Regions from separate parts of the Homo sapiens genome. Here regions 2 and 3 are each linked to region 1. The links come from fine-mapping of genetic effects on gene expression. A gene starts in region 1. Each other region holds a variant in brackets. All regions are shown on one strand. Distances are from middle to middle.

What was found.
Region 2: its variant is fine-mapped to the expression of NUP50 in fibroblasts (GTEx, PIP above 0.99).
Region 3: its variant is fine-mapped to the expression of NUP50 in lymphoblastoid cells (TwinsUK, PIP 0.95).

What each region holds. Positions count from the first base shown.
Region 1 is chr22:45,159,653-45,167,657 of GRCh38, forward strand. NUP50 (nucleoporin 50) reads left to right here and starts at 4,273. Exons shown (of 8, transcript NM_007172.4): 1 at 4,273-4,644. It overlaps NUP50-DT (NUP50 divergent transcript), which reads right to left and starts at 4,129. Exons shown (of 3, transcript NR_038956.1): 1 at 3,925-4,129. RefSeq lists silencers at 56-350, 3,785-3,834, 4,605-4,834, 4,865-5,044 and an enhancer at 4,202-4,724.
Region 2 is chr22:45,101,493-45,109,497 of GRCh38, forward strand. No RefSeq gene overlaps it. Among named protein-coding and RNA genes, the nearest start is that of NUP50-DT, 58 kb to the right of the region's middle. The variant G/A (reference allele first, on the strand shown) is at 4,051.
Region 3 is chr22:45,187,686-45,195,230 of GRCh38, forward strand. It overlaps KIAA0930, which reads right to left. Exons shown (of 10, transcript NM_001009880.2): 10 at 4,559-7,545. It overlaps LOC105373064 (a long non-coding RNA gene), which reads right to left and starts at 3,927. Exons shown (of 4, transcript NR_146602.1): 1 at 3,339-3,927; 2 at 2,817-2,860; 3 at 2,232-2,515. It overlaps NUP50 (nucleoporin 50), which reads left to right. Exons shown (of 8, transcript NM_007172.4): 8 at 1-332. RefSeq lists an enhancer at 3,184-3,684. The variant A/G (reference allele first, on the strand shown) is at 4,682.

The DNA of each region.
Region 1 (8,005 bases):
TCAGCCCCATACTGTGTGCTTTACCTAAGTGTTCACACTTAATCTGTACAACCAAATGAAGGTACATAATACACCCTCGCTTTACAGATGAGGAAACTTGAGCTCAGAGCTCAGTTTGTCCAAGGCTGCCAAGCTGGTAAGTGATACGGCCAGGAGATTAACTCCAAAGCCCCACTGCCAGGCAGATAACAGAACATTTCCTGTTTTCATTCCTTAACATTAGGAGCAAAGTGTAGTTCTGTAGGCTTCCTGTTGGGTGTTTTCTGGTAAATCGTAACAGGAATGACTCCAGGTCGAGGTTTAAGCCTACCTAAAATGAAGGCCAGAACACAGCTAGAACACAGCAATATTATCTTGCCATTTTCTTTGCTAGGTTAAACTGGGCTTGAATGATCTGAGACATTTATGACCTGATCACTGTGGCAAAACTGATACAAAGCTGGCTCCTGGCATGGACCTCTAACAGCAGAAAGAAAGGCAGGATCACATCACCATGGACTCATTTGGAATCAGGTAAAGTAGGTAAACTGACATGTCTGGGTATTTATTTACTGAACATGATGACAATGACCCAGCCTAACAACCATCACAGTCCTTTGGCTCTCAGGGGTTAAGCAAATTGAAAGGGATTTTTGAAAGGCAGAGTATAGGAAAAAAGGGCTAACACCTTTGGAGGAGTATTTCATAACATGAGACTTGAGCTTCATTAAAAGGAAGTAGCCAAATTCAATGGAGGTAGATGTCTGCGTGCAAAGTGCCTCCATTCTTCTGAGTTATAGCCAGTTTAAAGTTGTCATTTTAGCCAGCAATGAAATCCATCCAGTAAGGCGCAAGACAGCTACAGTGCTATCATATACATAAATCTTTTTTATTTGCATTAGAAAGGCATCAGTTATTTCAATGCTACAATGTGTAATTAAGTAAATGTGTTAATCATTTGGCTTACCCTTACAATACTGTATTATTCCAAGAATGAAAGTTCTGATTTTAACTAAGCCACAATTCAATGTTGAGTACAAGAAAGTCTACCTCTACCTAAGCTGCCTCTATCCCTGACATGGTCACAACCTAGAGATCAAGCAGCCAGTTTGTCAGAGGCATTGGAACCAGAGCAATTCCATCTTGAAGAGGCAGTAGGTAAAATCAGGCAGAGACCTGTTGGCTGCATTCTTAGTAGTCACAAGATGTTTAGGGTTACAGGAACAGATTAATAACGTTCACTAAACAAACCCAGGACTTAACAGACCCAGGAAACATTTTGATGTCGCTGTATCTGTTAGTCCAAACTGCACCATTTTCTTTCTTTCTTTTTTTTTTTTTTTTGAGATGGAGTCTCGCTCTGTTGCCCAGGCGGGAGTGCAGTGGGGCAATCTCAGCTCACTGCAAGCTCCGCCTCCTGGGTTCACGCCATTCTCCTGCCTCAGCCTCCTGAGTAGCTGGGACTACAGGCACCCGCTACCACGCCCGGCTAATTTTTTGTATTTTTAGTAGAGATAGGGTTTCACCATGTTGGCCAGGATGGTCTCGATCTCTTGACCTTGTGATCCACCCGCCTCAGCCTCCCAAAGTGCTGGGATTACAGGCGTGAGCCACCACGCCCTGCCAAACTGCACCATTTTCTAAGCCCCCCGCCATTTCGCAGACACTGGTCAAAGCGAAACATTCCACGGGGGTTCAGGCCGTGAGAAATTTCCTGCCCAACTTTCTTACCAAACCCTGTTGGGTAAAGGCCCAATTGAAGGAACATCCCTATCAAACCTTGCTCAGCAAAGGTGCAAGGAACATCACTGTCACTTTCTGAGGGAACAAGGGCCAAACTGCCTGATCATAGAACGTTTTATGGATAGATATACTGGTAAGTATATTCACATGGCAAGCCATACTGCCCATTCCCCTCCTGCCCTATAAGTACCCCAGCCTGTAAGCAGCAGTGGGCTCTGGCATTAAGCTGATCCCCCATCTCTGTAGGTTTTTGCCATATACCTGTGTTGCTGTTGAGCTGCCCTTTGTTTTTTTTTTTTTTTTTTTTTTTTTTTGAGACGCAGTCTCACTGTATTACCCAGCCTGGAGTGCAATGGCGTGATTTTGGCTCGCTGCAACCTCTGCCTCGCGGGTTCAAGTGATTCTCCTGCTTCAGCCTCCCAAGTAGCTGAGATTACAGGCATGTGCCACCACGCCCCGCTAATTTTTGTATTTTTAGTAGAGATGAGGTTTCACCATGTTGGTCGGGCTGGTCTCCCACTCCTGACCTCAGGTGATGCACCCGCCTCGGCCTCCCAAAGTGCTGGGATTACAGGCGTGAGCCACAGCGCCCGACCTGTGTGTCATTCTTTAACTCTCGTCTTCCCTTCAAAACCTAACAATATCTTAAGATCAAAAGCATTCTTCATTTAGGTTTCGCTTTAAAGATAATATAGATCTTTGCCAAAGTCAGTAAACAAAGATGAACAATCCTTGTGTCAGGCCTCTGAGCCCAAGCCAAGCCATCGCATCCCCTGTGACTTGTACGTATACGCCCAGATGGCCTGAAGTAACTGAAGAATCACAAAAGAAGTGAAAAGGCCCTGCCCCACCTTAACTGATGACATTCCACCATCGTGATTTGTTCCTGCCCAACCTTAACTAAGTGATTAACCCTGTGAATTTCCTTCTCCTGGCTCAGAAGCTCCCCCACTGAGCACCTTGTGACCCCCCACCCCTGCCCACCAGAGAACAACCCCCTTTGACTGTAATTTTCCATTACCTTCCCAAATCCTATAAAACGGCCCCACCCCTATCTCCCTTCGCTGACTGTCTTTTTGGACTCAGCCCGCCTGCACCCAGGTGAAATAAACAGCCATGTTGCTCACACAAATCCTGTTTGGTGGTCTCTTCACACGGACGCGCATGAAACCTTGGTCGTGGGCCCTCGTGGTAGAGCCCATGTCCCCCAAGATTTCTTTGGCTGTGTTACCTTAGATTTGAACAAGCACTGTACCTAAGGCGGGCGCCTTCCTCCTCCCGCTTTCAGGAATGCCCTGCTCTGCCATTCTTTTGCTTTCTCACTTCTCTAATACACTTGCTTTCACTTTAGTCCGTGGACTCGCCCCGAATTCTTTCCTACGCGACATCCAAGAAGCCTCTCGCTGGGTCTGAGTGGAGACCTCTTTCTGGTAATAAACGGACTAGGGAGATTCGACTTTGAAGGTGAAAACAAAAACCACCATCCAGTTTATAAGAAGGCGCTCGAGGCCGGGAACGGTGGCTCAGGCCTGTAATCCCAGCACTTTGGGAGGCTGAGGTGGTGGGGCGGGGGGAGGGAATCACCTGAGGTCACGAGTTCGAGACCAGCCTGACCAATATGGTGAAAACCCGTCTCTACTAAAAATATAAACATTAGCCGGGCGTGGTGGCGCACGACTGTAATCCCAACTACTCGGGAGGCTGAGGCAGGAGAATCGCTTGAATCCGGGAGGCAGAGGTTGCAGTAGGCCAAGATCGTGCCACTTCACTCCAGCCTGGGCGAACAAGTTAAACTCTCCATCTCAAAAAAAAAAAAAAAAAAAGGGCGGCACTGGAAACAGCTGGGAGTGACAGGGCCAGGGATGAGGGATCGCAAGCTGCTGGTGAGAAAGGAGCTCAGAGGCTGCCTGGCCTACGGGCCAGGAGACCTCAGCGCAAAAAGCGCAGGACTCGTTCCCCTGCTCTACAGCTGAGTGCCCAGGACGGATCTCACTGGCTGAAAAAAACAGAAGAGAAGGCACCCAATGCAAAATCAAATGTCAGCGAACGAGGGGTCCTTTAACAGGCGGCCCACACGGCCCCTCCTGGCGCCGAGACCCAGCCCCTCCGGGCCACCCCGGCCAGGTACGACCAGCAGGGTCACCTGCGCGCGTCCCCCGAGACGGGGCCTCCTGATGTGAAGCGACCCCAGTGGCACCTCACACGATTCCCGAGGGTTGCGGGCGGCCTCTCCTCAGCCCTGCAGCTCCCACACGCGGACACCGCGGGCCTCGGCCATGTCCACTGACCGACCTTCCTCGCCGGAACTCCTCGCGCATCGCCGGCCCCTCAGCGGCGACTAGCGCGCGAACATCCTGGAAGACGCGTTGCCGGCCCCACGTGAGCCGACGCCCCAAAGCGCGGCTGCTGGCGCCGGCTACGAGATCAAGGTCGGCGCGTGCGCGCTTGCGCGAGACCGGCATTCTCAGCCCCGCGCCGGTTTCCAGGGAGCTGGGCGCATGCGCCGCGTAAGGGGCCCGGCCGGCGGAAGGAGGTGCTACTGCCGGAAGCGCCGGCGCGCTTGCGCAGTAGCTGAACGCGGGCGTTTCTTTCCTCCCTTTTTTTCGAATTGGTTTTGGGGGTAGATTCGAGTTACAAAATGGCCGCCCGGAGCGTGTTCGGCGCGGTTCCCCCAGCTGTCTCTGGCTGAACCGGCGCTCTCGCCTCCCTGCCGAACACAGCGTGAGGAGCCCCCCCAGGGATATGGTGTTTGAGTCTCTGGGCTTGCCGAGCACTAAGTCCTCTGAGTTCCGCAGCGCAGCACCGGAAGCGGCCGAGCGCGCTCAGCCCGGCGACCCCTGCGGGCTCCAGACCCCTGCGCCGCTGCGCCCCGGGTTTCGCCGCAACCAAGACCCAGCGAGTGCAGCGGCGGCCGCCGAGGAGGTGAGGAGCGGCGGCGGGCGCGGGAGGAGAAGAGGCTGAGGGCGGGAGCCTGGTGCTGAGAGCCCAGGGCCGGGAGGGCGGGAGCGGGCTCGGGCCTGGGAGGGGAGTGCGAGTGCAGGGCTGGGGACTGGACCCTGGGGAGGGAGGTGCGGGTTCAGCGCCGGGGGACGGGCCCCTGGGGAGGGGTGCGGGGCCGGGGGACCAGACCCTGGGGAGGGGCTTAAGGGGCTGGAGGACGGGACCCTGGGAAGTGGGGTACAGGGCTAGAGGTCGGGACTCTAGGGAGGGAGCCTGGGTCGGGCGCACGGGCCGGGCGGGGCGCGCGGTGGGGGAGCGACGGGTGGAGGGTGGGGTGGGATGACAGCGGCGACGCAGCCCCGGCTGTTTTTGAAGCGGGGCCCGGGCCCCACCGGGCTGCGGCGTCCGACTCGAGTGAGACTCTCCCCTGCGGCCCCGCCGGAGGTAGGGGGCTGGCAGGGCTGTCCTGGCGTGGTCTTCTCCGTTTCCTTCCTAGCGATTCCTCTCGAGCTTCCTCTCCCCCTGGCCGCCCCTCGTCTCTCTTCTCTTGGGCGCATTACCTCTCTGGCCTGTCTTACTGCGTTCCCGGGTTATTCATCACCCATTTGCTCGGTTCCATTAAGAACCAGCTTGGAGATTAGGTATTTCTGTCTCCTTACTTGGCCCCCTTGTTGTTTTCCTCCAACAAGGCACTTCACTATTAAGTGTAGCCAAATCTGTGTTTTCGTTTTAAGGTGATGTTGACAAGTTGAGCTTTCCAAGGGCAGAGCTACACCAGATGCCAGAGACCACATAACTATATCAGGCACAAATAATGTTTTTTTCCAGTTTACCTAGACTTTCAGTCTCCCACCACGTTGCTTCATACCTAGAAATCATGTCTAATTTGGTTTTTTACCCACAAACGCAAACGTTTTTTAAATTCCCTTTTATTGATTGTTTGATTGAGACTGGGTCTTGCTTTGTCACCAGGCCTCAGTGTAGTGGTAGCTCACTGTGTAGCCTGAAGCTCCTGGGCTCAAGTGATTCTCCTGCCTCAGCTTTCCAAGTAGCTGGGACCACAGGCGTGCGCCACTACGCTCGGCTAATTTTTTATTTCTATTCATCTAATCTATGTCCATCTTTATTTTCGTAGAGACCAAGTTGGTTTCCAACTCCTGGCTTCAAGAGATCCTTCCGCCTCCCTTAAGTTCTTCATAACAGTAGCTAGACATAAGACTCCAGGTGCCAGGCCTTGTTCTGAATATTTTACAGAGGGTTTTTTCTCCCCCCCACTTCTAGCATAAAAGTAAAATGTATTGTCTGAAGTGTCATGCTTTGAAATAAAATAGGGATTTGGTAAAATATTTGTAAAAATCTGGTTTGTAATCCAAGTTATTCTTCTTCCATGCTACAACTTTTACGTTTTGGAGGGAAAATGATAGTTTATAGCCTTTGCTTCTAATAAAACTTGTTTCTTTAATAATTTATTAAGCCCTTCCTCTGCTCCAGGCACTGTTCTAAGCCAGTCTTTGTTTATCTTAACTTTCTTAATACTTCCTGTTCCACAGATGAAGAAACTGAGGCACAAAAATTAAATATAACTTGCCCAAGTTCTCACAGCTAGAAAATGGCAAAACTGGGATGCCAGCATCTTTTAGTATTTTTTGAAATACTTTATGCTCACTGGGGAAATACTTCCCCAGCTCACTGATCTAATGACAGACAGGACACCTGCTGTTTGAGCTGGGCACTGTTGGGGCATTTGGAGTATATCTGTAAACAAAACAAAGATCCCTGCGTTTTGGTTATATACTGATTTGGTGAGTATGTTAGGACGTGGAAGCCCCTACATTTATTTAGACTATTTTACTGCGTCACCTGTCTCTTCATTGTGGGTATGAGTTAGAAGTTACAATTTTACTATTACAGTTTTTGTGTATTCAGCTCCATCCCTTTTTTCTCCACAGCTAATTTTTTTTTCTTTTTCTTTTTTTTTTTTTTTTTTTTTTGAGATGGAGTCTTGCTCTGTCACATAGGCTGGAGTGCATTGGCGCGATCTCAGCTCACTGCAACCTCCACCTCCTGGGTTCAAGAGATTCTCCTGCCTCAGCCTCCGGAGTAGCTGGGATTACAGGTGCCACCACCACGCCCAGCTAATTTTTTTATTTTTAGTAGAGACGGGGTTTCACCATGTTGGCCAGGCTGGTCTCAAACTCCTGACCTCAAGTGATCTGCCCACCTTGGCCTCCCAAAGTGCTGGGATTACAGGCGTGAGGCACTTCGCTGGCCCCACAGTTAATCTTAAATAGCAAACGTGACCGTTGGTGACTTCTTACTTCTCCAACCCTCTGGTGGAGACATTAGTTAATGAGTAGGAAAATTGCCAAAAAGAATCCGTACAGAGACCTGGTTTCTGCACAGTAAAGAATTATGTCTATTCCTGTATTTGTTTTTGTTTGTATGACAAAGATTAATGGCAAAACTTAACCAAGTGTTTTTGGGTGGACATTAAAAAGAGAGGGTTCCCAGCGAATGGAAAGTGTATTTATTTCTCATCCTTTATATTTTAGAATCTTGGACTTTAATATCATTTGTAATCAGAAAAATAGCATAAACTTACAAAATTTAAAAATCACTAAAATGTATTAAAAGCTGACAGCCCGTATGTAATTACTCCACTGGCCATCAAATTGTAGAGGCCTTTGGAATACCAGCATTTGCATTTTACTTTTAGATACTAAAGAGTGATATGTCACCTCATATCTTAGCGACCACTTTGTGGGGTTGTAATACACTCTGTATTACACAATACACCAGAATAAGGAAGCTTACTCTGGTGTATTGTGGTGTTGAGAGCAAACAAGAGTGGGGAGAGTATCACGAAGGAGTTCAGGCAGGTTTAACAAGACCTGGCAGGTCCCCAAAACTAATCAGTAAGTTTTTGGGCGAGGTGGGTAGCAGGGGAAATGGAAAGGTTTTTTGTCCAGCTGGAGAGTTAGTGAAGAAGGCAGCACAACACTCATAGCGGAGCTCTGGGTTGTGGGTTTTCTTTGTTTTGTTGTTATGATATTAAGATCAGAAAACAAATCGTAAATTTTAAGGGATGGACAGGAGCACCCTCTTTGGTTAGGTGCCGGAATCCACTGCAGAGTTCACGCCGTTCCCCAACTCCTGCCCCTTCCACTAATGCCATCGTATTGAAGAGTTAAGCCAATGATTTGTTTTTGAAAGGTTATAAGTTCCCAGAATACTAACACACCCATGTTAATCATTTTGGACTTCTAATTGTCTTGGCAATATACAATTTGAAGCAACAAAATGTTCAGTCTTGGGAACCATGTATCTCTGTCGGCTGTAGCTT
Region 2 (8,005 bases), 58 kb before region 1:
TCGTGCCTTGCTTTCTGGAATGATGAGACTCCCCTTCTCCCCTCCCCCCTCACCCACTCTGTCTCCCCCTGCCTCCCACCCTCCTACCTCCCCAAACTCTCCATGGACTGTTTAGGCCTTAACAACTCTGGAGAGCTATTAGGATCTATCAAGCGAACAATAATTTACTTCACGAAGTGATGTGTGTGATTTTCACCATTGACTCTAATCGCAACAGAAAATCATTTCAGTCGGCTGAGTGCATAATCTGTGTGTGCTGAACTTCTCTAAGCTTGGACTTACCTAAGGGAGGAAAATGGTCCCCTGGGACCCACTCAAGAGACGCGGAGTAAACAGCGTGCATTTCGTAAATGGGCTGGGGGTGTGCCAGAACCATCGCCGGGGACCCACCGCTGTCAGCCTAGAAGGCCATCGAACACTCAGAAACCATCTTCACAAATCCTTCTAGGGTGAGGTGGGGGGGTGAGGAGTCAGGGGTCGTGCACCTAACCATCAAAGACAGTGTGGATGTCCTGCTCATCTGCCACCGGGTGGCGCAAAGAGAAAAGGAGAGCAGACAGAGCAAGGAGGCACGTGTCCTTCCTCCTCCATCACATCTGCAGACTGAGCCCAAGCATCGGGAGCCATGTGGCCAGGCAGAAATGGGAAGTCATCTGTGCCCCTTGCTAGCGGACATGGTCCCAGGGACAGGTCCTGTCCTGTCCTGAGGCTGGAACTTCAGGAGTCCCAGGCCAATCATCACGCTACCAACTTGAGGAGCTTGAGATTTTCTAGTTTAGAAAGCAGGTACACAATTGTACATAGAGCACCAGCGTACCCAGGTATAAAGAAAGAAATATGCCAACCTGTTGGCCGTGGCTACCTTTCAGAGACTGGATTATGAGTTTTAGTATTTTCTAAAATTTTCTACAATGAATATGCAAGTAATAATAATAATATAAGATCTTACAAAGAAAAAAGTCTCAAGATTCCACTCTGACCATGTGTCCAAGTTCTAGCAACAAAATTAATGCCTAGGGAATGCCATGGCCAAGTCCCATCAGGACAGGGACTTACTTCACAACATCAAGAGATTTTAGTAAAAAGTGCAGGGGCCAGGGACAGTGGCTGTAATTCTGATGCTTTGAGAGGCCAAGGCAGGAGGATCGCTTGAGCCCAGGAGTTCAAGAACAGCCTGGGCAACATAGTGAGATCCCTGTCTCTACAAAAAAAAAAAATTGTTTTAGATTAGCTGGGAATGGTGGCATGCACCTGTAGTCTTAGCTACTCAGGAGGCTGAGGTGGGAAGATAGCTCGAGCCCAGGAGGTCGAGACTGCAGTGAGCTGAGATTGCACCACTGCACCCCAGCCTGAGCAACAGAGCAAGACTCTATCTCAAAAAAGATGGGGGTTGGGGAGCAACAGAGCAAGACTCTATCTCAAAAAAGATGCAGGAAAAAGAGCACAGAGTGGAGAAGCAGAAGAGATTCTTAAGTTCTTGTCCTATAGGTAAGAGCTAAAACAAGTCACTTGCTGACCTAGAGTCTCAATATTCATGTCCCTTGACTGCAGGCAAAAGCTGGCCTCACCTCCTATGATTAATTGACACTTGTTGCTTCTCCCTGCTCGGGTTCCTTCCCCTTTCCTTTGCTGCCTGCTGCTGTCCTGCTCTGTGTAATTCGGCGTGGATGTCCCTGCTTCCCCCAGGTCAGGCAGGCTCCTGAGCAGCCCCCAAAGCACAGATGTAGTGCCCGATGGGGTGGGGAGGGGATGGCAGCCTGGCAGAGCTGAACACTTGGGGAAAGGGAATTTCTCTCCTTTGGGGCACTCAAGCACCGAGGGTCATGGAAGCCGGGAGCTGCCATGTTGCACAGAGTAAGTCTGTCTGAGAATGAAGCCAGCTAATGAGAAAACAGAGCAAAGAGATGGAGAAACTGAGGCCTGGGGATGTCACTTGAGCCATGACATCAGCATAGCCAAAGCCAGCCCCAGCCTCTGAAAAAAAAAAAAAAAATTTGGCTGGGCGAGGTGGCTCACACCTGCAATCCCAAAGTGCTGGCCTTGACTAAGGCCAAGGCAGTCGGCTCACCTGAGGTCAGGAGTTCGAGACCACCCAGGCCAACATGGTGAAACCCTGTCTCTCTACTAAAAAAAAAAAAAAAATACAAAAGTTAGCCAGGCGTGGTGGCAGGTGCCTGTAATCTCAGCTACTCAGGAGGCTGACGCAGCAGAATCGCTTGAACCCGGGAGGTGGAGGCTGCAGTGAGCCAAGAGCACCACTGCACTCCAGTCTGGGTGACAGAGCGGAACTCCGTCGCAAAAAAAAAAAAAAAAAAAAAAAATTCCCAATTCCGATTCTGCTGTAAAGCCCCAGCCCCTTTCAGTTACCATTTACTGAGTGATAACTTTCCTCCTATTTCAGACCCAGCGTGGGTGGGATTTCTGCCCCCTTGCAACGGAAGCCTTCTGGGGCTGTGTAGGGCCGGCTCTGCCTGGAAGTGCAGATGCCGGAAGCCTCAACCAGAGGGAGCCAGCAGTGGCCTGCCAGCCGCATGCCAGCCCCAGTGGGCTCTGTTGCCTCCCATAGGATTAAACATTTGAGCCCATACTTTAATATCTGAATTTCATCTAAAACTCTAAAGAGTTTCAGTTTCTCTGAAAAAAAAAATCGGAAGATCTGGCAACACTGGGTCTAGGTCCTACGTCCTACCTAGAACAATGAGCAGGGGCTACACAGGGGCTGCCACCTTGGCTTGGAGCCTTTCATTCTCTGTCAGTTCCCTGCAACTCCCTATTTTCTCTCCAACGCTGAGGCTGGGTTTCAGCTGGCATTTGTAAAATTTTGGGGGGCTTGTATTTTTATAGGAGAAAATTTTTTCTTTTTGTCTACACCTCTGTCAACAATGGCATGGTGAGATGTAGGACTAGTGGCCCCAGTGGATCAGGCCACCTGGGTCCCTCTGTGGCCCTGCCCATGTGGACACTGGCCTGAGCCACGTGACTTGCTTTAGCCAGAGGTCCAGCAGCGCGTTAAACACACACACGCACTCATGCATGCATGCACTCACACACACATGCACTCACGCACGCACATGCGCGCGCACACACACACACACACACATGCACACCACACACGCTTGATGAACACTCTGTCCTCTTTGAACCCAGAATTTGGGGTCAAGATGAGAGACCATGTGGAGAGGGACTTTAGAGAGGAAGGGAGTGCTCAAAGAATAATAAGAACGCGTCAAAAACCAAGAAGCTGCTTTGGAAAGGTGACCACTGGCCAAATCTAGGACAATCTGAACATAAAAATAAATTATAGTCACAAAAAATTATACTCCATTGAATATAACAGGAAACCAGGAATCCATACAGATATAAAAAATAAATGAATGCACTGAGAATTTGGTGAGGAATGGAGATATTTGCAGAATTTCAAAGTACCTACCCACAAAATGGCAGAGAACATGAAAAAAGAATGACTTTGGCCGGGCATGGTGGCTTACGCCTATAATTTCAGCACTTTGGGAGGCCGAGGTGGGTGGATCACTTGAGGTCAGGAGTTCGAGACCAGCCAGGCCAACATGGTAAAAAGCCCATCTCTAATAAAAATTATCCAGGTGTGGTGGCACACGCCTGTAATCCTAGCTACAGGGGAGGCTGAGCCACAAGAATCACTTGAACCTGGGGGGCAGAGGTTGCAGTGAGTCTAGATCGTGCCACTGTACTCTAGTCTAGGCGACAGAGCCAGACTCCGTCTCAAAAAAAAAAAAAAAAAAAAAAAAGGAATGACTCTATAAGAGAGATGCTGGCAGACACCACTGTTGTCAAGTGATCAAAGTAAACATCAAGTGACAAATCGAAACCAAGCCCCACCCTATGGGAGGCAGTGAGAGAAACAAGGTATCCATTTGCGACAGTGCTGCCAGACTGCATAGTTGCTTGAGTAGGAGGAAGAGCAAACAAAGGGAATTGAGGAGAGGAAAAGAAAACGAATCGTTCGAAAGTGTTATCCTCCCAGGAGAACTGGAGATGTGTGCACCAGAACACCCGAACAGGGATGGTCAC[G/A]GGAGCGTTACTCATAAGAGCCCAAGAGTCCAAATGTCAGCATCCAGCAGCTCAGCAGTGGACAGACAAGTTGTGGTCTAGCCACACGTTGGAATGTTATTTGGCAATAAAAAGGAATGAGGTACTAATACACGCCACACCATGGATGAATCATGAACACAAGATGCTAAGTGGAAGGAGCCAGTCACAGAAGACCATTTATACAAAATGTCCCAAATAGGCAAATCCGAAGAGATGAAAAGTAGATTTGTGTTTGCTTGGGGCTGGAGTGGAGGCAGGAGGAGGGGTGACTGTCAATGGGCGTGAAGTTTCTTTGGGGGCTGAGGAAAACGTTCAGATGGGGGTGATAACTATAGAACCCTGAATACACGAAAATGGAACTGTATCTGTAAAACTGTATACACTGGATTGTATGTATAAAAGGGTGAGTGTTATGGTATGTGAATTATCGCTCAATAAAGTTGTTATTTAAAATAGTAAAAACAAATTGTAGGTAGATTTAAAAGTTGAACTAGTAAAGTACTAGAAGGAAAACAAGCAGAACTTATCCTACGCGAAGGGTTGGACCAAGAGGATGGATGTGATCAGATGTTGTTCTGTATATTTTATTTGAGAGATAACATAGACGGTGAGGAAGCAAAAGGACTGGGAGGCGGGAGGCAGGACCGCTGCAGTAACCCGGGCAAGAAACAATGAGGGTCTGAAGCAAGGGGTAGCAGTGGGCCCTAAGAGGGAAGGAGAGAGACGAGAGGCATTTGGGAGCGAGAACTGAAGGGCCCTGGTGTTGAATGGGTGATCACAGGAGAAGAAAGACCTCCTTCCTTCCCATTCTTCCCATTCTTCCAACGCAGAGTAAGTGCCACTTCCTCGGAAGCCTCCCTGACTCCAAAGCTCGGTGGGGTTCCCCTCCAGGGTCCCCCCACCTCCATATCAGAGCACTGATCACAGGGACTGGCCATGGTCTCTACTGCCCTCTGGACAGCTGGGCAGCAGGACCTGGGTCCTGTTCACCATCAACCCCAGCACCCGTCAGCATTCAGCATGCTATGAATGTTCAATTAGTATTTGCTGAGCAAAAATGCGAATGGATGAACCAGCCTGTGATACTTGCCAGGTTTTGGCTTCTGAATTCATTCACTATGTTGGCCATTCTACCATGAATGTACTCCAGCTTACCCCTGAGACATGAAGGCAGCTGGGGTTAATGTGGAGCCTGCAGCCCATGCCTTCTGCTCCTGGGTCTGTGCTCCATGTGAGGTTAGAGGATGCCAAGGACTGAATGTGTGTGCCCCCCTCTAATTCCTCTGTTGAAGCCCTAATCCTCAATGTGATGGTATTAGGGGTGGGGTCTTTGGGAGATGATTAGGCCACGAGGGTGGAACCCTCATGAGTGGAATAGCGTCCTTAGAAAAAAGACTCCAGGGAGTTATCCAGCTCTTTCCACCCCATGAGGACACAGCCAGAAGACGGCCATCTGCAAACCAGGAAGGGAGCCCTCCCCAGATGCCAAATCTGCCAGCACCCTGCTCTTGGATTTCCCAGGCTTGAGAACTGCGAGAAATAAATGTCAGTTGTTGAAGCCACCCAGTCTGTGGTATTTTTGTCGTAACAGCCTGAGCTGATGGAGCCAGGGAGGCTGCATGGTCATGAGCATGCTGGAGGCTAGTAGGGAGCAAAGGAAGGGAAGACTGGGGTGGGTGTCAACCCCAGGTAGCCTATGTTTATCCCCGGCCACTGCTCCTCAACTTCATCCTGGAAACCCAGCTGTCACCTGTCAGGAGAGGCTGCTCTGTCTCCTCAGAGCATAGGGCTGCAGCCAAGGTGGCTCAGGGGTCCTCCTCTCCAGTTCCATCCCAGATGACTCAGATGCCATGGGCAAGTGTCCCACCTCCAAGCTCTTATGGCTGTAGGGCAGGGGCTGAGCTGGAAATGTCAGCAACACCAGGAAGAACATTCAGAATATCTGCCCCATGTGTCAACTGCTCACCACGTCCACGGTCCACTCCCGGGTCCAGGCCACCACCATATCTTGCCTGGATTGCTCTTAGGACCTCCTGACCCTGTGGCAGCTTCCAGTCTCACCCACGACAGCCGCCCCGTTTCCCGCACAGCGGCCTGCAATCTTTTAAAGACAAACATCATACCTTGACGTTCTCCTTCCTTACATTCTCCAGGGCCCCCTGGACAACTGCTCTCAGGATAAAATCAAAACCCTTCACCAGCGCATGAGGGTCTGCATGATCTGGCGCCCACATCTCCTTCCCCTCTCTCCCTCACTCACCAGGTTGCAGCCATGCTGGCCTCCTTTTCACCAAAGCTGCCAAGCCCTTTCCCACCCCAGGGCCTTTGCACCTGCTGTTAGAAGCACTCGAAGCTCGGCTGGGTGCGGTGGCTCATGCCTGTAATCCTAGTGCTTTGAGAGGCCAAGATGGGAGGATTGCTTTAGGACAGGAGTTTGAGACCAGCCTGGTCAACATAGCAAGACCCAATGTCTATTTTTTTATTATATATTTAAAATTTTTCTTAAAAAGAAGCACTCTATCTGCCCACTCCACCCGTCCACACCACATAACCCCCTCCATCTGCCGATCCCTGCTTGCTCCATCACACCACTCCCTCCATTCCTTCCCACATAGCAGCTTCCTCCACAGTGGTTGTTTCTACTTGTGCGTCGTTGCATCACTCCCAACCAGAAGCAAATCTGCATGAGCATGGGCACCTGAGCACGGGCACCTGTTCTGTCTTGTCCCCACCATTTCACCAGGGTCCAAGGCAGTGCCCAAGAAACAGTCCAAGCTCAATAAACACTCGTCAGGTGAATGAAAGAACCGAGAGCTGATCATATTTTATTACCTTTGTGATGCTTATCATCGTCTGACATGAGCTTGTTATGATTGATGACTGTGGTTCTCCTGTGATGAGAATGGAAACTTCAGGAGGCCAGAAACCTCATCTCCATTCCTGTTGTACCTCTGGCACCCAAAGCAGTAGCAGGCACAGAGTAGACCATTAACAAATAGTTGCTAGTTGTTGAGTGACTGTTGGTGAAATTTTATCATTTTATCAAATTCTTAAAAATATACATTTTTAAAAGCTGGGATACTATTCAAAAATCATCTCAGCAGCCTGGGTGTGATGGCTCATGCCTGTAATCCCAGCACTTTGGGAGGCGGAGGTGGGAGGATCACTTGAGGCCAGGAGTTCAAGACCAGTCTGGGCACTATAGAAAGACCCTATCTCTAAAAATTTTTTTTAATTAGCTGGGTGTGGTGGGCACCTGTAGTCCCAGCTACTCCAGAGGCTGAGGTGGGAGGAGCGCTTGGGCCCAGGAGGTCAAGAATGCAGTGAGCCATGAACACACCACTGCACTCCAGCCTGGGCAACAGAGCAAGATTCTGTCTCAAAAAAAAAAAAGGTCTCATCATATATTTTTTCTAGCTTGATCACATATGCACAAACACGTATCATTCTTAGTTCTTGTTAGAATTCTCCATTAACCGGCACTATGGATTTTAACAAGTTACTTAATCCATCCAGGCTAAAGGCATCATCTACAACATGAGATTATTCTAATACTTTATTTCTACGACTTCCTCCAGCTCTAATCTCCTATTATTCAATGTATTCTGCTTCATAGTACAAAGGGTTTAAGCCATACCCCAGTCCCAATGTACTGACTTCAGTTTCTGGGCATTCCTTACCCGTGGGTGGGTGTGGGTGCTTCCTGGGATACTTGATGGTATCCCATTAGTGTCAAGACCACATGGACATTCCCATGCAGAAATATTGGTGAAAGTCCTACAGCTGATCCAAGAGCCAGAAGCTCCGCAGGTCCCTGAGGAAGGAAGATAGAGACTCCCTCATGCTGTGCCACTCTGGAAATTCATTGGTCCAGATCAGTATCTGCTTTTTTTTTTTTTTTTTTTGAGATGGAGTTTCACTCTTGTTGCCCAGG
Region 3 (7,545 bases), 28 kb after region 1:
GTCCCGTAGTATGGCAGATGACAGGGAGGTCTTTTCCAAGCAGGCACTCAGAACACAGGTCACCGTATGTTCTCAGCCAGTAACAATCATACTGAGGACGAAGGACTCTCCGTTTGATGCAGACACAATTGTAATGGAGATGTAAAACTTCTTAGCAATCAGATGGATAAATTGTTTGCTTTTTACTTTAAATAGGAAATTGTTTTCTAAAACTAAAATACTTGAATTGTCAGACAATATAATCTCAGCTTGTATTAGTTTTTGAATGCTCCCATCGAGGAAGTGTAACAATCCATGAAATGTGAATAAATGAAAAGTAAACAAAATCCCAATGTGTGAGTCTTATGTTCCTCTGTGATGCACTTGGCATTAATACAAGTCAGACAGACCTGAGGAAGAAGAATCAACGCAGAAGCTGCAACCGGAAACTTCCTTGAACAACAGGAAGGTCAGCTTGGAGGTGAGTGAGAGACCAGTTTATTATCAGACTCCTTGTTGGGGGCCGAGACTACTTTTAAACCATTCAGACCAAGGGTTTCTGTTGGATTAAAATCTTAACAGATTGGAATGGGAACAATTGATCCTTAATGGGCTAGTGTGCAAAGCATTGGCTAGGTGCTTTATATGTATTACCTTGGTTAGTCCTCAAAGCAAACCTTTGAGACTTATTTTTTAACCTTTCCTATGTTACTCAGCATTTATTTGGTTTATAAGGGGTATTTTCTGGTTTAAAAAAATAATATTGCAAAGATTTAAGTTATCCATCAAAGTATTTTCCTGAACCGTTAACATCTAATAGAAACTAAATGACACTAAGAGAATGTCATCTGAAGAGGAAGATTGCACCTGAGCCGCAGCAGCCCTGTTTAGATACTCAGCTGCATGGCTGGGCTAGAACCTGGGTTCTCAGAGTGGTCCTGGGACTGACACATAAGAAGTTGATGGAAATGCAAGCCCGGCCGGGCCCAGTGGCCCACGCCTGTAATCCTAACACTTTGGGAGGCCGAGGTGGGTGGATCGCTTGAGCCCAGGAGTTTGAGACCAGCCTGTGCAACTGTTGGGAAAAGGGCTTGTGGGGTGCCTGTATAAACTGGCCATAAAAATACAGGACACTAAGTTGTGGAAAGCCACAAGAGGTCTCTGAGGAGGAGAGCCTCCTAATTGCCATCATGTTCCCATGCTCAGAGTGAGACCTGCTCTCGTATCTGTAAACACTGTGTTCAAGGAGAGAGACACTCCTTTGAAACACTGGAATGCGGACAGACGTGCAGGCTCCGAGTTAAGCCCGCTCCCACCAGCTACTCTCCGATAAAGATACGCTGTTTGAGCAGCACAGAGGAGGTTCGTTGAAACCGCTGTTGCCGTAGATGATGCCTGTGACGCGCCGCCGCCCTTCCACTGTTTCGCCCCGAACATCTGCTTAAATCTAAGTGATTGGACTCAATAGTGTGGAGACCAGAGCTCTAAGCCTTTTGCAGCCTCCACATTTTGCAACTGGCCCCCTGGCTCCCACCTTCACTCTTAACCTGTCTCTTCTCAATCCTTTGTCGCCACCAGACTTCGGGTACCCTACGGGTGGTGTTGAGGCTGGTCCCCAACATGCAACATAGCAAAAACCCTGGCTGTACAAAGAATACAAAATGTAGCCAGGCATGATGGCATGCACCTGTAGTCCCAGCTACTTGGGAGGCTGAGGTGGGAGGATGGTTTGATCCCAGGAGGTGGAGGCTCCAGGGAGTGAGCAGTGATCATGCCACTGTACTCCAGCCTGGGTGACAAAGCAAGACCCTATCTCAAAAAAACAAAAAAAAATCAAACCCGGCTGGGCGAGGTAGCTCACGCCTGTAATTGCAGCACTTTGGGAGGCTGAGGTGGGAAGATTGCTGAGCCCAGAGTTAGAGACCAACCTGGGCAACACAGCAAGACCCTGTCTTTAGAAAAAAAAAAAATTTTTTTTTTTTAATTAGCTGGGCATGGTGGTGGAAGGAATCGCTTAAGCCCAGGAGATCCAGGCTGTAGTAAGCCGTGGTTGCGCCACTGTACTCCAATCTGGGTGACAGCAAGACCCTGTCCGTGCCCATCCACCCCCCCACAAAAGGCTAACCCATGGGCCCCAACTAGGCTACTGAATCAGCGCCTCAGGTTGGAGCCCATTTTTAAAAATTGAGATAGAATTCATATAAACTGCACCCCTTTAAAGTACATGATTCAGTGGCTTTTAGTATACTCACAGTGGTGCAGCCGTCATCACTGATCCAAAGTATTTTCCTCACCGGTCTTCTGGGTTTGAACGTTGGGTTAGAGCGTGCATTAGGTGATCCTGAGGCATGCTCACATTTGGGAACCGCTGGCACATGCACTCCCGATGACTCCAAAGATGGCCCGTGAAATACCCCTTGCACACGCCGGGAAGAAATGGCAGTAGTGATCAGCGTTGCCAGCAACTATGCCAGCCTTTGGACGTAACCTTGTCTCACTTCAACATCGTCGCGTCCCAGGAAGGAAAGTGGTGATTCTACTTGAGAAAACCCAGGCCCAGGGTTAAGTGTGTCTGAGGTGGTGCAGCTTGAGGTCCCAGCCCCACACACCTCTCCCCAGCGTGCCACGTTAAGTGAGATATACGTGCCCACTAAATTACTCAACTGCACTGGCTTCTGGAAGTGGCTAAAATCTTTTAAGCAAAATTGTTTATTCAGAGTAGCATAAAATTTGGCTAAAAGCCATGGTTATTTCAAAATGAGCAACCTAATTGTTTCATTAAAATCAGATTCCAAGAGGAAAGACCCCAGTCCACACAGAGGAAAGAACTCTCTAACCTGTTGGCTGATGGAGAGGCTAAGTCAGGGGCAATTCAGTGACACTGTAAGGAAAGAAAAGACAACATGATCCTTTCTTTATCCCCAGAAACAAGTATTTTCTCTTCCTCATGTAAATTTTCCAGCTGTTCTTAGCATTTTAACAATCAGGCACAAAGTACAGCATGTTACCACAGTCAACATGTCTATTTACAATGAACTGTGTTATTATATGGATTGAGTTACATTCCCCTCTCCTCCCAGTGTAAGATTCCCAAAGGTTTTCCTTTCCAGTTACCTTTTTTCCTTCTAAGCTAGGGCATGACAGTACTTCCTAAAAGCTCATCTAAGGCTAAAGGAACCGAAATAGCAGATTAGCCTTCCAAGAGGAGGCAATGAATAGGAATGAGGTTCCCGCAGGCAGCTTCCAAGATAGAGACTCTCCCCAAATTTCTATTAAACATTTTTCAGGTGACTGCTTTAAAAGGACTTCCCACTGTTCAACAAGAAGGGGGTTGACCTGGATGGCAAGGAAGTCTTCACCTGCTAGACCGCCTCCTTCCTAACCTCCATCTTCATGGGCTGCCTTTGGGGTTGTGGTCAGAAAATTCTCTTGGTCTGGTGTTTCTAAGGCAGTGGCTGTTCCCAAGAAGTGTCATTGATGGGATGTCCCTTACTGTATTCCGGAATGCTTGCGTTCCTCTCAGACCCTCTTTTCTCTGCCCCTCATTTTCCACTCTGTAACTTTCTGCGGTGTCTTAGGTCTTAACATCCATCGCTGGTAACTCACTAAGTCCATCTGACCGTGGAAAGGAAAAGCTCACAGTGTGAAAGGCGACGATGAGGCTGCTCCCACCTACGAGGGCCCTGCAGTAGCAGACTCGGAAGGATCAGCCGGAAAATGCGAGAGCCTGCTCGAGGTCCCCTCACCTGCTGAGCTGCAAGACAGACGCCTGCTGCAAACACCTCATCTTCCGTTAGATCAGCCAGCTTACCTGGAGCCTGCAAAACCTGAACTTGGGGCTCCTGGCCTCTATTCCATTTTTTCCATTTCTGTGAGGGTTAAGAGGTTCTCTGAAAAAGCCTGGGAAATTTTATAGTACAACTGAAAGGGTGTGCACTACTTTGTGGAGGCTAAAAGCTTAACTTGAAATGCATTTTTTTTTTTTTTTTTTTTTTTTTTTGAGATGGAGTCTCTGTCACCCAGGCTGGAGCGCAGTAGTATGAGCTTGGCTCACTGCAACCTCTGCCTCCTGGGTTGAAGCGATTCTCCTGCCTCAGCCTCCCAAGTAGCTGAGACTACAGGTGCACATCACCACGCCCGGTTAATTTTTGTATTTTTAGTAGAGATGGGGGTTTCACCATATGTTGGCCAGGCTGGTCTCGAACTCCTGACCTCAAGTGATCTGCCCGCCTCGGCCTCCCAAAGCACTGGGATTACAGGCGTGAGCCGTGCCAGGCCTTGAAATGCATCTTGAAATGATTTAATACTGCAAATATGGCATCTCTGGCCAAACCCATCACTGACCTGCCCACCTCTTCTCGGACTCCTCACTGGCTCACGGCAGGCAAAGCCAGCACACAGGGTGATTTTTCTCTGCCTCCAACACACTCTAGTTCAAAAAAGTAGTTTGTGTGAAAGCTCCAAAAAAAGTTTCAGGAATCACTGGGGGCAAATTAAGTTTCAATCATTAAATTATTGCTTTGCTATAATATCTGTATTTACCCTGAAATTCCCATTACAGAAAAAGATTAGAGGAAGACACAGAAAAAAAAAATTTAATATTCAACATGCAAAACAACCTTTAAAAGAAACATGAAATCATAAAGCAAAGCTAACAGCCAACCAACAAATACCGCCTAGCAATGATTTCCACTGGATGTGG[A/G]AGAGGGTTAATAAAGACGCTGTTGGTAACGCGTACAGAACTATCACTGGCAATCAGCATACTGAGCTATCCAGTGGAGGCCAGCATCGTGTTTTTGCTAAAATACATGTTGTAGAAGTCATAATTCATAGTGAAGAATCTCAACAGGTTTTCTTACAGATTTAATTACTCTCACACAAATAATTCATTTGGAAACCATAAAAGATACCTATTTACACCTAAACTGCCTGGCCTTCCAGAGCGGGGACTAAAGGGGCAGGGCGGGGAAGAAAGCGAGCGTGTCGCGGGCTCTGTGGGGTTGCAGGGTCACTGTTATTTTGATCTGCTGAGCTCAAGGACTGGAAACGGAATAAAAACGCCTACTCGCCTTAGGCAGGATAAGAAGTTGTAAACTCACCCATCAGCAGCTGCCTCCACTTCTGAGGCTCCCCCTGCGGGAGGAGCTCTGAACCCAGCCCTGAGGCCACTCGGTGTCCCGAGGAGTGCTCCAGGGCTCGGAGAAGGGGCTCAGGGGTCCTTTTGCCACTGAGGATCAAGCCAGCCAGTGAAAAAGAAAAAACAAAAGCCCCAGCAGGTGCCCATCACCCGGCTCCCAGGGGTCATCTGCAGAGTCACGTGGCACTCTGGCCACTGCTGAAGAGCTGCTCTCCCTCGAAGGGCAGTGGCTGCCCCCTCCAGAGGCTGCTTCCATTCAAGCTCAAGGGCACGTGCCTTTCCTTATCTCGTGGAGTGTCCGTCCTATCAGGTGGTTGTTTGTAAAACAAAAGTACAGTCATTCTGCTTTCTGATACAGACTAGAGCAAGAGGACAGGAAGAACCAGTGGGCTGTCAAGAGACACTTGGTTTTTGAAACAGGACATGAAAGCAAATCCCACCTAAATTCAAAAATTGAGGAAAACGTCAGTGAAACCTGTTAAGTTCGCTAAAAAGTTGGCAGATGTTTCGTATGTCTTTAAAGGATTTTGGCCAACAACTTAAAACCACCATATTAGGACATGGTCCAGGCAGTCATTAGAATATACTGGCTGCACAGGGCCTTTCCTCTGGGACATCTTTTAATGAAAAAAAAAAGTTTTACTTTGTTCTTCAAAAGTCTTCTACTAACTAGTCTATTTATGATTAAAACAGCAAAAACAGATCCTGGTTTGAGTGCAGGTACATTCTTTGGGGGAGGGCACCTCAGGAACATGCATTTATACCCTTCCTGTGACTCCGTGTAGAGGGAAGACTAACTCACAGTCCATAAGAATCCAAAAGTGAGCGGCGACTTCACTCAGCAACCCATCCTGCCTCCAAGCTGACTTGGCTATAGAGTATCTTGCGTCCTTTTGTTCTCTTCTGACTACCTGTCACTCATGTTTTAAATAATCTTCTTTTGAAATAATAAGCCTTAGCTGGCTTTGCAGGCAACTAGGCACTTCCAGCAGGACATGAGAATGTAAGATGGCCACTACCGGAACTTACAGGTGCCAAAAGAAGAAAGGGTATAAACGGAGACCACCTATCACTCATCAGAACCTAGGATCATCACATTCCTTTAAATGGAAAAGCCCACCCTACAACTTTCTTTTTAATGTTCTAAAAAGTGACACCTAGGTTTCCTCAACAGAAAGCTGTGCTTCAATCCCAAATCCCCTTGAGACCAACATGCCTTAAAGGGGGTTTGGGTTTAAAGACCAATGTATCTTTTTTTTTTTTTTTTTTTTTTTTTTTTTTTTTTTTTTTGAGACAGAGTTTCGCTCTCGTTGCCCAGGCTAGAATGCAATGGCGTGATCTCGGCTCACTGCAACCTCTGCCTACTAGGTTCAAGTGATTCTCCTTCCTCAGCCTTCCGAGTAGCTGGGATTACAGGTGCCTGCCACCATGTCCAGCTAATTTTTCTATCTTTAGTAGACATGGGGTTTCAGCATGTTAGTCAGGCTGGTCTTGAACTCCTGATCTCAGGTGATCCACCCATCTCAGCCTCCCAAAGTGCTGGGATTACAGGCGTGAGCCACTGCGCCCAGCCCCAATATGTCTTAAAGGGGGTTTGGGATTAAAGTACAGTTTTCCGCTGAGGAAACCTAAGGTCTTAAAGGGGTTTTGGGATCAAGTGTCCTGTTGAGGAAAACTAGGTGTCACCATGCATTAGTCTTCCCCGCATTACACAAAAGGCAGGTGTGTTCCCAGAAAAATTAAAGATGGTCTTACAAGAAGTACAAATGTGCCAACACCAGGACTTTGGGGACCCTGGTTCTGGCCCTGCCACTTGTTACTCTATTACTTTATTCCACATGTCATCTGTTACTTTGGAAAAACAAACCTGGGAGTAACACCTTACTGTCTGGTTCTCAAGTGGCTAAGTGGCTCTGAGCAAGTTTTAAATCCGGCATCGCAAGTACCCTTTGGAGAGGGATTTAGGGCCTGAGAAAGGCAGACTCCACCGAGTGTCTGTCCATCTGTCCGGACAGCACCATGTGGCTCAGCATGCAGGCCAGGCCGCGTGCCTGGGTTTGACTCCCATCGCCGGCCCCTGCTGTTAGTTCCGGACAGTTCCTTGGTGCCTGTGTGCTGGTTTTCTCGTCTGTAAGATGGGGTCGGACAGGCAGCTGCACATGGTAGGCGCTGTGTGTCGGCTATGAAACCACCAGCCCACCGCGTGCCCTGTTCACATGCCTTACAAATTGAGGGCTGATCTCTAAAATAGCATGATTTGTACACGTTTCTGTGACCAGCGAGCCCTTTCACACATCACTGTGACTGGTCCTCATGGTCACCCTGTGAGGGGGGCAGCATTTTTGCCATCTTACAGACGGGGAGCCCAGCTTGCTCTGAGCCATCCAGCAGTGCTGGCCAAGCCTCCGAGCTTGGCCAAATGCTGGCCC